4 separate regions of the Homo sapiens genome follow, and all the other regions are reported to be linked to region 1. Evidence: microRNA targets listed by miRTarBase, many of them from high-throughput screens and not tested one by one. Region 1 holds a microRNA gene; each other region holds the end of a gene's coding sequence.
Evidence for each region. Region 1 holds the annotated microRNA hsa-miR-6895-3p (UGUCUCUCGCCCUUGGCCUUAG, at 1,491-1,512, shown strand). A microRNA usually pairs through its seed, bases 2 to 8, with sites in the 3' UTR of a target mRNA and lowers its output. Matches are read on the target gene's strand: a 7mer-m8 pairs with bases 2 to 8, a 7mer-A1 pairs with bases 2 to 7 and ends in A, and an 8mer does both.

Region 2: the mRNA of TAL1 is a reported target of hsa-miR-6895-3p. Seed matches in the 3' UTR shown: 7mer-m8 at 506-512.
Region 3: the mRNA of SP9 is a reported target of hsa-miR-6895-3p. Seed matches in the 3' UTR shown: 7mer-A1 at 197-203.
Region 4: the mRNA of SLC41A2 is a reported target of hsa-miR-6895-3p. Seed matches in the 3' UTR shown: 7mer-A1 at 1,790-1,796 and 7mer-m8 at 1,744-1,750.

Annotation. Positions count from the first base shown.
Region 1 is chrX:53,192,280-53,196,922 of GRCh38, reverse strand. MIR6895 (microRNA 6895) reads left to right here and starts at 1,435; the gene lies at 1,435-1,512. KDM5C (lysine demethylase 5C) reads left to right here. Exons shown (of 26, transcript NM_004187.5): 19 at 1-237; 20 at 869-1,007; 21 at 1,513-1,692; 22 at 1,855-1,992; 23 at 2,185-2,784; 24 at 3,072-3,150; 25 at 3,287-3,486; 26 at 3,591-4,643. The coding sequence ends at 3,956.
Region 2 is chr1:47,216,877-47,219,876 of GRCh38, forward strand. TAL1 (TAL bHLH transcription factor 1, erythroid differentiation factor) reads right to left here. Exons shown (of 5, transcript NM_001290403.2): 5 at 1-3,000. The coding sequence ends at 2,844. Among named protein-coding and RNA genes, the nearest start is that of TAL1, 14 kb to the right of the region's middle.
Region 3 is chr2:174,337,379-174,340,378 of GRCh38, forward strand. SP9 (Sp9 transcription factor) reads left to right here. Exons shown (of 2, transcript NM_001145250.2): 2 at 1-1,122. The coding sequence ends at 162. Among named protein-coding and RNA genes, the nearest start is that of SP9, 3.9 kb to the left of the region's middle. RefSeq lists an enhancer at 1,157-2,789.
Region 4 is chr12:104,802,592-104,805,591 of GRCh38, forward strand. SLC41A2 (solute carrier family 41 member 2) reads right to left here. Exons shown (of 11, transcript NM_001352171.3): 11 at 1-2,746. The coding sequence ends at 2,561. Among named protein-coding and RNA genes, the nearest start is that of SLC41A2, 150 kb to the right of the region's middle.

The DNA.
Region 1 (4,643 bases):
GCCTGAGGCCCAGCAGCTCCAGCGGCAGGTGGAACAGGCGCGATGGCTGGATGAGGTGAAACGCACACTGGCCCCCTCAGCCCGAAGGGGCACCTTGGCTGTCATGCGAGGACTGTTGGTCGCGGGTGCCAGTGTAGCCCCTAGCCCTGCTGTGGATAAAGCCCAGGCCGAGCTGCAGGAACTGCTGACCATTGCTGAACGCTGGGAGGAGAAAGCCCACCTCTGCCTGGAGGCCAGGTAGGTCCAGCTGCTGCTTCCCTTCCCTGCCCTATTCCAAACATCAAAGTTGAGTGGAGACCCAGAAGAGGATGCCCATGGGTGGCCTTAGGTATCACGCTCCTGTGTTACTGTATTGACTCTCCCCTCTTTTGTTGTCTATCTTGTCGTTTTTTTAAAAAACAACTCTGTATACTTAAAGGCAAAGAGAGGCTGATGGAGAAGCAGAAATGGACAGATAGAGATTATCTAGAAGACTAGCCCTACAGGCTAATGTGCGCATACCCAGAAGCACAAGTGACAGGCAGATGGGCAGATGTTGGTAGAAAGACCCCACACAGGGCAGTTGACAAACTGCAGCAACAGATTACACAATACAGGTTGTATATGTAGGCATTGCTAGCAGGCCAGCAGACTGGCAGACAAACAGAGGTGCAAGAGCTGTGGCAGAAGGGATGAAGTTGGGTGCATGCAGTCTTGGGGAAGCAGGGACTGGCAGCTACCCTTAGGTGGAATACAAGCAAGTAGGCCCAAGTGACAGCAGGAATAACAGACACCCAAGGGGCCCATGCAGATATATCTGGTGGTCAGGCTGGGCTTCTGGTCAGGCAGACCACATCAGACTGAGCGTTCTTTTTTTCCTTACCTTTAGGCAGAAGCATCCACCAGCCACACTTGAGGCCATAATCCGTGAAGCGGAAAACATCCCTGTTCACCTGCCCAACATCCAGGCTCTCAAGGAGGCTCTTGCTAAGGCCCGGGCCTGGATTGCTGATGTTGATGAGATCCAAGTGAGGACCCTGCCACTCCCACCCCAGGCCTTCAGTCCAGCTGGGAAGAGATGGCATATACACTGGGATGTGCTGGGTTGCTGGGATGGGTTGGGTTGGCTGGAGAGAGGAAGGGGGCATGGCATGTAGTCAGGAGGCAAGATGTGCCTGATGAGCAGGGTGAGAGGAAGAGTGTGAGGCTGGCCTGAAGGAAGAGAGGGCACTGGTTAGGATGAGATTGGTGGGCCAGGGAAGCAGGTGGTATGGGACTGAGCAGGGCAGGGGCATGGAGGAGAGGAGAAGAGGCAAACCACAACAGAAGGCTGACTAGATATTTGGGGCTGAGCCAGTCAGTAGATGCCGGTGTTGTGGGAGAGAGCCAAGTGGTTGTTCCTTAGGATGACACCTATTTTTTTAATCCCTCAAGACTGAGCCCAGTTCATCTTTCCAGCTCAGGGCCAGGCACAGAGTAAGCATCAATAGCATTGGCAAGTTGAACTGAGCTGTCTCTCGCCCTTGGCCTTAGAATGGTGACCACTACCCCTGCCTGGATGACTTGGAGGGCCTAGTAGCTGTGGGCCGGGACCTACCTGTGGGGCTGGAGGAGCTGAGACAGCTAGAGCTACAGGTACTGACAGCGCACTCCTGGAGGGAGAAGGCCTCCAAGACCTTCCTCAAGAAAAATTCTTGCTACACGCTGCTGGAGGTGAGGCCTGGGACCTTGACCTACAGCGTCTCTTAACGCCTGCCCTGGCTTCTGTGAGATGGCTCATGAGATAACATGGGTTTTGTAGGGGCACCAGGGAGGGAAGGAGGCGGGGGATGTAAGGGAAGCCCAGTCATTCCCTCTCTTGTCTGCCTGCCCCAGGTTCTCTGCCCATGTGCAGATGCCGGCTCAGACAGCACCAAGCGCAGCCGGTGGATGGAGAAGGAGCTGGGGTTGTACAAATCTGACACAGAGCTGCTGGGGCTGTCTGCGCAGGACCTCAGGGACCCAGGCTCTGTGGTAAGGAGCTTCGACACAGATGGGGAGAAGGGCTTGGTGATGATAGAGTGTCTGAGCTGGGTGGCCATGAGCAGACCGCTTGTCCCCTGAGCCTCAGTTCTCCTGGTTTGGGAGTGGGGGTGTTAAGGGGGGGCCCAGAGAAGGGAAGGGGTAGGCTGCTGACCCACTTTGCTCCTGTCCTGGGTATGGCAGATCGTGGCCTTCAAGGAGGGGGAACAGAAGGAGAAGGAGGGTATCCTGCAGCTGCGTCGCACCAATTCGGCCAAGCCCAGTCCACTGGCATCATCGAGCACGGCCTCCTCTACAACCTCTATCTGTGTGTGTGGGCAGGTGCTGGCTGGGGCGGGAGCTCTGCAGTGTGACCTGTGTCAGGACTGGTTCCATGGGCGGTGTGTGTCAGTGCCTCGCCTCCTCAGCTCTCCGAGGCCCAATCCCACCTCATCCCCACTGCTGGCCTGGTGGGAATGGGACACCAAATTCCTGTGTCCACTGTGTATGCGCTCAAGGCGCCCGCGCCTGGAGACCATCCTGGCACTGCTGGTAGCCCTGCAGAGACTGCCTGTGCGGCTGCCCGAGGGCGAGGCCCTGCAGTGCCTCACAGAGAGGGCCATCAGCTGGCAAGGCCGCGCCAGGCAGGCTCTGGCCTCTGAAGATGTGACTGCTCTTTTGGGACGGCTGGCTGAGCTCCGCCAACGGCTACAGGCTGAACCTAGACCTGAGGAGCCTCCTAACTACCCTGCAGCCCCTGCTTCTGACCCCCTCAGAGAGGGCAGTGGCAAGGATATGCCTAAGGTGAGCTACTCAGCCCAGCTCTTGTCCTCAGATTCTTGTCTCCTAGCCCCTACCCCAGTTTAGGCTCGGCCCTGCCCCTTGTTCTCCAATTTTCAGTTTTCTTTGGACCAGCCTTCCTACTCCATTCTGCATCTGTCCAGATTCCTAGACTCTGCTCCCTGCTGGCAGCCTGTGTCTTCCCTCCTCCTCCAGAAGGCGGAGGGTCTCAAGTTTGGGGTTGGCGGAGGAGGAATAGGGCCTGGTTCTTCACTTCAGTTGCCCCTACCTATTCTTGCTCTCCTCCGCAGGTCCAGGGCTTACTGGAGAATGGAGACAGTGTGACCAGTCCTGAGAAGGTAGCCCCGGAGGAGGGCTCAGGTAAGAGAGGTAGGTCTAGGTGTGGTGTGGGTAGGCTGTTGACTGCACATCACCATAGTGACCCATGTAGTCCTCAGCTCTGTTGTAGTGGTGGGGATAAGACCAAGGGCAGCCTCTAATGCCGCTTGTTCCTGCAACCTCCTAGATCTGGAGCTGCTGTCCTCGCTGTTGCCACAGTTGACTGGCCCTGTGTTGGAACTGCCTGAGGCAACCCGGGCCCCCTTGGAGGAGCTCATGATGGAGGGGGACCTGCTCGAGGTGACCCTGGATGAGAACCACAGCATATGGCAGCTGCTGCAGGCTGGACAGCCCCCAGACCTGGAGAGGATCCGCACACTTCTGGAGGTGAGGAGAGGGGTCATGGGCCGGGCCAGGAGGTCAGGCCGAGTAGGGAGCCCAGGCCTGACCACTGGCCCACAACCTGTCTTTCTGCCTGTCTGTAATCACAGCTGGAGAAGGCAGAGCGTCACGGGAGTCGGGCTCGGGGCCGGGCCCTGGAGAGGCGGCGGCGGCGGAAGGTGGATCGGGGTGGGGAGGGCGATGACCCAGCCCGAGAGGAGCTAGAGCCAAAGAGGGTACGGAGCTCAGGGCCAGAGGCTGAGGAGGTCCAGGAGGAGGAAGAGCTGGAGGAGGAGACTGGGGGTGAGGGCCCCCCTGCACCCATCCCCACCACTGGCAGCCCCAGCACCCAGGAGAACCAGAATGGCTTGGAACCGGCGGAAGGGACCACTTCAGGCCCCTCGGCCCCTTTCTCCACTCTGACTCCCCGGCTGCATCTGCCCTGCCCACAGCAGCCGCCTCAGCAACAGTTGTGACAGTGGCTGAGCCTAGCACAGACCCTGACAGAGACCCCCCTCGGCCTCAAGGATCCTCTTTCTGACCATCAAGCCTGCTTCTTGGGGGGTGGGCGGGTAGGGGGGTGGCCATCCCTGCTACCCGCCCACCCCTGAGTCCCTTGACTTTTGTATTCTGACTCCAAGGTATTGTTCAGACCTCAGCTCCTGGGGGCCGGCCCCTGGAGTCTTCCCTCCCTGGTAGCCTCTAACCAGCATTCCCAGACACCTGAGGCAGATAGATGGATGGGCTGGTGGGCAGGGGGGTGGCTGGGGCTGGGCCATCACCATTCCAGAGACAAGGCCAGTGTATATGCAAACTGGGGGACTCTCCTCCCTTCTCTCCCCAGTTCTGGTCCTGGCCAGGCCATGCTACACTAACCCCTGCCCCCACTCTCCTCCCCTCTTTTCCTTCCTTCCTACCCCCTTCTCCCTCTCCCTTCCCCTGACTGTTCCACCCAGGAGGAGGAAACTTCACATAGCCGTGCTCACAGTTTTTTATTTTAAAGGAATTTGGCTGGGGAGCTGAACAGGGCTCCCTGTGATCTGAAGAAAGCTTTTGGTGCTTGTCCTCACAACCACCTCAGTCCTCCCTCCCTGTCCTCCCCTGTCTCCTTTCCTCCTCCTGGGTTCATGTTGTAATAAAAGAAGATTGTTGGTGTGTAATTA
Region 2 (3,000 bases), not on the chromosome of region 1:
AGGAAGGAGAGGAAGGATAAGGTCATGGGGTACAGAGGGTGAAAATAAAAATTACAGATCTTCTTTAGTTCTTACAAAGACCTAAAGACTTGCCCTTTCCTACCAGGCTTGTTTTGGGTAGTTGCATTACATTTTACACAGTCTGCCAGTGTTCCCATATCTCTTTTCCATTCTTATTACTGTCCCTGGCCTTGGAACAAGATAGAAATTAAGACAATCTGGGCTGGGTGCAATGGCTGACACCTGTGATCCCAGTGCTTCTGGAGGCAAAGGCAGGAGAATTGCCTGAAGCCAGGACTTCAAGACCAGCCTGGGCAATATAGCAAGACTCCATCTCTACCAAAAAAAAAAAAAAGTAAAAATTAGCCAGGTGTGGTGGCTCACACCTGTGGTCCTCCCTACTCGGGAGGCTGAGGTGAGAGGATTGCTTGAGCCCAGAGTTCAAGGCTGCAGACAGCAATGATGGCACCACTGTACTCCAGCCTGAGTGACAGAACAAGACACCGTCTCTCACACACACACACACACACACACAAATAGATAATCTGGAGAAATGAGGACAATCTCAATAACTCAGGCCAAAGCGGTTTACAATCTAAATTACCCAAATGCTGGGCAGTCAGGCACACCGGCCTACTGCCTAGGTCGTGGACTCAGGCTGCGAAACCCCACTGCAGGATTGAGATTGAGGGAAAAGAAAAAGTTCTTTACGTTCTCAAAACTGTCTACTTTCATGATCCCATTCAGTCCACACCATAGCCCTAGGAGATAGGCCAAGCCAGAGTCACATGGCAAGTCTGAAAGAAGAGGGAGCCAGAAGTTTGAGTTCTTAATAAAATATGTGATCCATCTCATAAAACCCATCCACCCATCCATACTGTGGCTACTTCTCATTCCTAACTCAAGCGAATCCACGGTGAAGCAAACAGCCTTAGATCCTACAGCAATGACTCTATCTTTAGACAGATGGGGCTCCTCACAGGATCTTCCAAACGTTGGAAAGGAACCAACCCTAATTTTCACCAAAACATGATCTGGGGAGCCTGAAATTGAATGGAGAGCCTGAGTGCTACAAAGGTGAACAATGTTGCCCCAAGCTCGAGAATTGGACCTTACTTAAAAGGAAGGGGAAAGGAGCAGACATATTCTCTGTCTGTACATGGCTGAATTAGGGCCCCATCATGGTGAGGACAAGCCACTAGGCTGAAGCCCAAACTATAAGGGGGGGCTTTCCAGACAGCCACAGTGATGAGTTCTTGCATGGCAGGACAGGGCCACAGGCTATCTCTCCTCTGACCTCGAAGGCAGAGCCTAGAGGGAGAGGGCTAGGGTGACTTAAGGGTACAATGACAGACATACAGGACTTCTGTGCAATTTGTCCCATGGGCTTAGATGCAGGTCACAGACAGGCCTCACCTTAAGAAAACCACATCCCACCATCTGGATTGACACAGGAAATCAATGAAGGGGCAGTGGTTCATTCTACAAAAGGATTCTTCACTTTACAAAAGGACTTGCAGTGGTTATTTCTTTAAAAGATGAAGGATAAGGATGTGATTTACAAAAATTTCATGTACAACTTTCAGAGGGGAGCACTTCTATTGCATTAAACCAACCTCCCAGACGCACCCTTGATGACCAAAAGCTGCACAACTGAGGGGTGTTTAAGGTTCTGCTAAGTGAATGTGCATATGTTTGGGTCTTAGCCAGGGCCTGGTCTCTGATTGGATTTCCCATACCCTAGAAGTGAGGCTGGATCCTGGTCCTATTGAGCGCTAAAGATTCCACCAATAACTGAAGTCAAGCAAAAATTCCAAATGCAAAGCATTCATAGGACAGGTTTTGTGCTCAATTCGGAACATAGACCAGACCATCAGCAAACAGACATCTTACAGCAAAGAAATCCCTCTAAGCATCCAGGAGAATGCACAGATGGGGCTGCGCATCTACTCAGCACCAGCGTACGCCCATCAGCACACTGGCATTCACTCGCCAGCATGAACAGTGATGTCGAGGAGTTGAAGCCCACATGCCCAAAATATCTCTTGCTCCATATCACTCTACTATCATTGTCCCTTTCTCTGCCTTCACACAAAGCCCGACAGGGCTTTCTCAGGGCTGCAGACATTGTCTCCACAGCCACAGGCTTAGGAAGGCAAGTCTCATTGGGGAGAAAGCAGAACTTTGATCCCCAGGGCAAGAAGTAAGGGCGACTGGGTTTCCTGACCCTCCGGCCCAGCTCATCTAGAGCAGACTGTCCACTGATCATCTTCTTCAACCAGGCCCTGAAGAAGGCACCTCGAGGCTTGTGACTCTGCAGCATCTGGCAAGCTGGATGGATCAACATAGGCCTGGGTGAAGATGGGGCTCACGAAATGGGCAGCTATTGGGTACCTATAAATATGGACAGAAGTGGCCACACAGGCCACCCCAGCCAGCTTGGGAGGGGCTAAAGGCAAGGCAGAGACTGCTGGATGCCTCAGATGAGAGCTGACAACCCCAGGTCTTAGGAAAGACAGGGATCCCAAACTCCAGGCCAAAAGCAGTGACAACTCCAGCCTCTTACTTGGGAAGGATTTGGGACTGAGGGAAGAGGGAAGACCGTGCCGTCTTCACAAAAAGTACCTACCACTTTGCTCCATTTTTCTGATCTCCTACTGGTACAGGAAACAGAAAAGCCAGCCCCAGGGTCAGTAAAGGCTTCCCAAAGTTCAGACATCCAGGAAAGTTCAAGTCCACCGCCTTGCTTCAGAGCCGCCCAATTCTCACCCCACCTGCCCTGAAGCCCACCATCCCAGCAGCCTAAGAACGCCCTCCTGGCTGATCCTGGTGGCCCAGACCCATCACCGAGGGCCGGCTCCATCGGCGGCAGGCAGCATGGCAGGATGGAGGCTGCGGGCCGTGTGCTTGGGCGCGGGCTCCTCCGTGTAGCTGTCCGGGCTGGCTGCCCCATCCAGGGAGCTGCCGCAGCTGGAGTTGGGGGAAAGCACGTCTTGCAGG
Region 3 (3,000 bases), not on the chromosome of region 1:
AACCTGGAGACGCCCCGTTCCGAATCCCCCGACCTCATCCTGCATGACTCCGGCGTCAGTGCCGCCCGGGCGGCGGCAGCGGCGGCGGCGGCAGCGGCGGCGGCGGCGGCGGCGGCCTCCGCGGGAGGCAAGGAAGCAGCGTCTGGCCCCAACGACTCTTAGAGGCCGGGCGAGAGGCGCGAGCACACAAGCGAGTAGAGACACCGAGAACGAACGAGAGGTTCGGAGGGCGAGCGAGCGGGAGGCGGGAGGGCAGGGGCTTCAGTGACGCCCCCAGGGCCCGGGCTGGGCGCGAGGTGGAGCCGCTCAGGGCTCCCGGGCTGCGGTTCGCCCGCTGTGCGAGGAGCTCCCCTCTGCCTTCCGCGCCCGGATAAGAATCGAACGCGTGGTCCGGAAACAAAAGCGAACCATCCTCCGACACAAACACTTTAAAAACTGTACTCCCAGACGTACACATACACCGGAGACCTACAACCACAAGCACGCACACTCGCGCGCGCACACACATACCACTCGCCCAAACTTCTCGAGCGAAGAGCAATACATAGAAAGGCTCCCTCTTTGCCCACTCTCCACCTCCCTCCAACACCCGTCTCTTTCCTTTTCTCAAAAACAAGCCACCACCCAGCAAAGGACTGTCAGAACATTTGAAAACAAACGGGACCGATAAAAACACCCTTTGTTTGGATTATATTATATATAAAATGCTCCAAGTCCTGCCTGATATCTACTTACAATGAGACTTTTTTCCTAAAAAAGGAAGCATCAAAAGGCTTAAGGTGAGAAATTAAACTGGAAGTCTAGCGACAGTTTCTCTGTATTTCATAACATCTGTATAAATAGGGTTCAAAAGATTGTGTTCTCTTTTATTTTCTTGTAAATGTTCATTCGAATAGAGTTTTTTTGGGTGAATCCCTGAAATTCAGGGAGTTTTTTTTAATTTTCTGATGCACTTTGTGAAAGTCAGTATATATGTAAAAGATATTTAAAATGTTGAGTTATCATTTCACTCACAAACACGTAAGTTAAGGTCATCTAAAGAAATTAAATGCGTTTATCTGTATCAAGAAAATCTTGACATCATATTTTCATTTTGGTATTATTAAAGGACTCTGAACAATACATTTCCTTTTTTAAAAATCCTGTTTCCCCCTCAATAACCTTTTCGTGGGTCGATTTTTTTTTCGGTTGGGAAAAAATTCCCTTAATGTTAGTTGTAGGTAATGTAAAGTTTATGTGGGTTATAAAAGCCATACTACATATACGTTTTTGAGAAGTCAAAATTATTTATTTGTATATCAACAACATAAATTAAATTGGGTTGTAAGGACGTGTAGTTGTATTACTTAATGTGAAGGCTCTCAAAAGGTGACATTTTAAAACTCTGGAGCGCCTAAAAAATGCAAAGGTCCTTGGCAGCTTTAATTGGGGAGGTGCCTAAACCTCTGGGAGGGGTCAGAGAAAACTCTGGTGGGTTTGTTTGTTTTTAAAAAGTGATTTAAAAACAACTGTGAAAGGAAAACGCTTAAAAAAAAAGAAGTCTTTTAGCTCCCAAGGCCCTGTATGTTGGAAGGCAACTCAAGGGAATAAATCGCTAGAGTCAATACCCCGGAAAAGACATTTCATGCCTAAATGAAAATCTTGTTAAATGTTATTAATTTTGACTTAGAGCACACAGCAGCCCCCTGTGCCTTGTATTCCCTTATTAGGGATTCATGTCTTATCAAATATCTAATTAATCTCCTAGACATCATTTGTTCTGGCCAACTTTATCTCAGCTGGTCCGCGGGGAAAACTCCAAATATTCTCTGTGACAAAGCTCCCTTGAAGATCTTTTTAATTGTCTAAATTAACTGCACCAAATTTGCATGTCAAACGGTAAAGGGCAACCTGAGATAAAATGTAAACGTTTTAAAAAGCCCCCAAACTAAGCACTTGATTTGATAACTAGGCTTTTTAATGTTATGGAAGACAACTGCTCCTTTCCTTTTCAAAGACGGCTGATCTATGCAAATAGTGAATTGGAAATGCCTAGGTCCCCGCGCCGTCAAATGGCCCTCGCAGGTTATTTGAATATCAGTGGCGCTGCTTCTGAAAAGGTTCAAGGATGCTCTCTGACTTCTTTGTGATTACTCAGTGCGGCGTCTTATTCTGAAGAAAAAAACTCAGGAATAATTAAAGGCTGGGATCAGGCCTGGGAACACATTTGGGACAGGAATCTCATTTAGACAGTCTCTTTCAAAATAAGGCACAGTTAAATTGACCAGAAGGCAATTATTGAAATGAAAATTATTTTCACTCTCTTTGTCTTCTGACCACCAACTTAACAGCCCCAGTTTAAAAGAGGGAGAAAAGAGGGAGAGACAAAAAGAAAATTGGTAAATGAGATAATTTCGCAATTCGAAAAAAATGTTAATTTAGAAAATAAAGTACATATTTACAGAATAAAAATATTTCTAAAAGATTTCCCACACAAGAGGAAATACAAGCGAAGTCAGCACCAACATATTTTTTTTTTCCATTTTTGATTACTGTCCGCCTTGGGAATTTGAGCGAAGATTTTGATTTTTAGGAAAGAAAAAATAAATTCTTGTTATTAACAATCAGCAAAATGTTTTCTCGGAAACTGTTCTGAAACACCAAGTCGCAAAGTAGCGATAAAACAGAACGAAGGTCCCCAGCAGGGAGTTTGCAGCGTGACATTCAATGGCTTCTTCCTTCTCCTTCTTGAGCTCCCCGCGGCCAGGCTGCCCCGCTCTTCTTACTCGAGTTTTTCTTCACTTTGGCCATTTTCTCTCCCCGATCAAGCTGTTCATAACCGGGAGCCCCCCACTCCCTAAGCGCCTCTGGTCGGGGGATGGTCTTCCGGAGAGCCGGCTGGCAGGGACGCGTTTTCCGGAGGGGCTTCGGGCCGGGGCACTGGAGGCCCAGAGGGTGCCTGGCGCGTTTGGGGGCCGCGGGCTGGCGGCGCGGAGTAGAGGGTGTGGTGGGTCTCCCCAG
Region 4 (3,000 bases), not on the chromosome of region 1:
AATGGCCAGACCTGGGCAGGGTGGTAGCAATGATAGATTTTACAAATTAAGGCATTGTTCTTTATTTCAAAATTTTCATTTACCTATATTTTCCTTGGTCTTAGAAATATGAATAATTTAGAGCTGGCAATACTCACCATCAGGATATAATAAACGGAGGTTTCTTTGTCTGAAATCCATAAAATGTAGTAATACTCTATTGTACTTTTAAAAATCCTATTTTTGCAGTTGGCTTCCTCTCAGTGAATTAGTTAGGTAGTTTTGGTACATTTGGAGGGTCATAAACATGTCATAGAAAGAGTACTGGCATTATGAAAACCTGGATGTTAGGGACTTCACAATTTGGTCATTTTGCAGCTGTACAACCTTAGAAATGTAAGTTCTCTGAATTTCGGTTTCCTCTGCTGTAAAATAGAGATAGGAATATCCATCTGATATATTTCACAGGTACTACTGTGAGTATTAAATGATATTGTGTGTTTGTGCACTGGAATGTGTAATATAATAAAGTTGTTGATTAATGCTTTAAAAATGTAGCTTGCCCTGTATATTTTTTAAAAATCAAAATAGAAATCATTGGGAAATGTAAATGTTTATGAATCTTACAGCTCAAATGCAAATAATTTACAAATGCTTTATAATAAAATCAAAGATATTCATGGATTTTTTTAAGTAAAAAATCTTTGCAGCTAAATATTCATCAACTTAAACTTATTCTTTCTTTTATAAGAATGTTCACTATGTAACATTATAACTCTCCAAAGGAGAAATTCTATAATTAGTTCAGTTCTCTGCCTTAAAAGTTTTATTATAAGGCAGAAGAATGGAATAATTGAAGTTTAAAAATAAGCAAAAATATATAACTCTAAACCACAGTCCCCTCATTTAAAAGAGCTTAACAAGAATACTTTCTGCAATATATTTATAAACAACCTAATATTTATATAATAACACAAAGTTACAACTTAAATCATGATGATCAAAGTTAATGTGCATTTTGATACCCTTATCAGCTTAAATTATTAAATATCTAACGGTCTTGAGAGATTGAATTTTAAAAAATGAACCACATGTACTTTAAAAATGGTTACCTATTCAATAACTAAGGTGTTGGTCAAGTGTTTAGAATATAGGCCAGAGTTTTAGAAAAATTATTTGAGAAATATAGTATATATGATTGGGTCCCACGTAGAAATAAGCCTGTACAAATGGATATGTTTAAGCATGAACAATAATTGAGGTAACCCACCAACTTCTTTTTTAAAAGCGTAAGTCAACGGGCTTCTTTAAAAGAGCAAATGAATCACTTGCTCATTTTAAATCTCCTATCTTGATTATATTAAATAGTACTACTTTTTAAAATAAGAAATTATTAATTATTAATTAGAGTGTAGGTAACAAATTAGCTGGGCGTTGTGGCGCATTCCTGTAATCCCAGCTACTCGGGAGGCTGAGGCAGGAGAATCACTTGAATCCAGGAGGTGGAGGTAGCAGTGAGCCGAGATCACACCACTGCATTCCAGCCTGGGCGACAGAGCAAGACTCTGTCTCAAAAAAAAAAAAAAAAAAAAAAAAAAAGAATATAGGTAACAAATAGTAAATTCTGGTCAGCAGCAAAATTTTTGGACCCAATGACAAAAACATGTTAATAGAATGTGTTTAAGAATAACTCTATATTGCTGATATTCCAACAGCACTATGATCTTTGCTATCAGCAATCCAAGATTTAGTTCTTCATCAAAAGTCTCTCTCTCTCACACACACACACACACACATTCTCGTACCGTCTTGTCTCTACAAATGCATCTCAGGTTATATTCTGTTTTTGAAGATTACATTTTTTAAAACACATCAACATTTTTCCAACAAATCAATCATCAAAAAATGACTCACTGCTTTCATTAACAATCTCTCAAGATCACTCAATGTTTAAAGATTAGCCTGACAAGAACTTGCAGAGCTGAAATTGAATTGGCATCAGAACAGGATAATTTTAGATGGAGGTAAAAGTGAGTTTATCTTATGCTCAGCAAAACATATTTAGGTCAGTTTAAATATGAGCAACTGGTAAATTTATCCTCAGCTAGCATAGAGGTGGGCATTGTTAATACGATTCAAAGCTTGGTTGGGCACTCTTCGTTTTATAGTATGCCTGGGATACAGCACATCTGTGAGACAAGAAAGGCTAAACTAGAGCTCTGCTTCTTCTAATCCTGCATTACAAATTTAATAATAAAGTACATTTCTGCTATGTTTGTGGTTTTAAAATTATTCACTGTAAACATCCTATATTCTTTCCTAATTAATTTCAGAGCTGGAACTTATATCTATGTCTATGTCAAATTATCATTTATTCTATGAAAAGCAGCACGAATACTCTTCATTCTGGTTTTGACACAAATTCCTTAAAAAAAAATTAAGGCCATTTAATTGAATCAGGGCCAACTGAAGATTACCCTGGCAAAAGTCAAACTACTGATTTAAGAGTTTTGAAAAAGAGCCATAAGTGGTTGTCGTGTATTTTCTTCCTTGGTAACTTGAGAGCAGTTTGTAGAATTTATTAGTCTCCAACATCTCCATCTCGATCTCCAATAAGCCAAAGAAAATGAAAACTTAAGGCTAACAGAGCTGTCCCGAGCAGATCACCCAATGCTGTTAGGTAGGGGATGGAGAAACTATCCGGGTCCTTTCCTTTCCTCCAGAAGTGATGGACCATCCAGTCAGCAATCCACAGCAAGGTAAATACCTAGAAGAGAACAACAGAGATTACTCCGGCTGCCTGGACATTCCTAGCCCATGAAACATGGCCACAAGCCTAAACCACTGGCTTCTGGAAGGGACCGTATGTGTCTAAGTCAAGAACCATGCTTGAAAATAAGAAATACTTAGATGACAAGAATACTTTCATTTCACAAGAAAAAAAACAGCATGTATGTTTACAGGTACTAAAATTTTTCTTCAACTTTTCATATAGATCTCATTCTAGCCTCCCAATAGCCA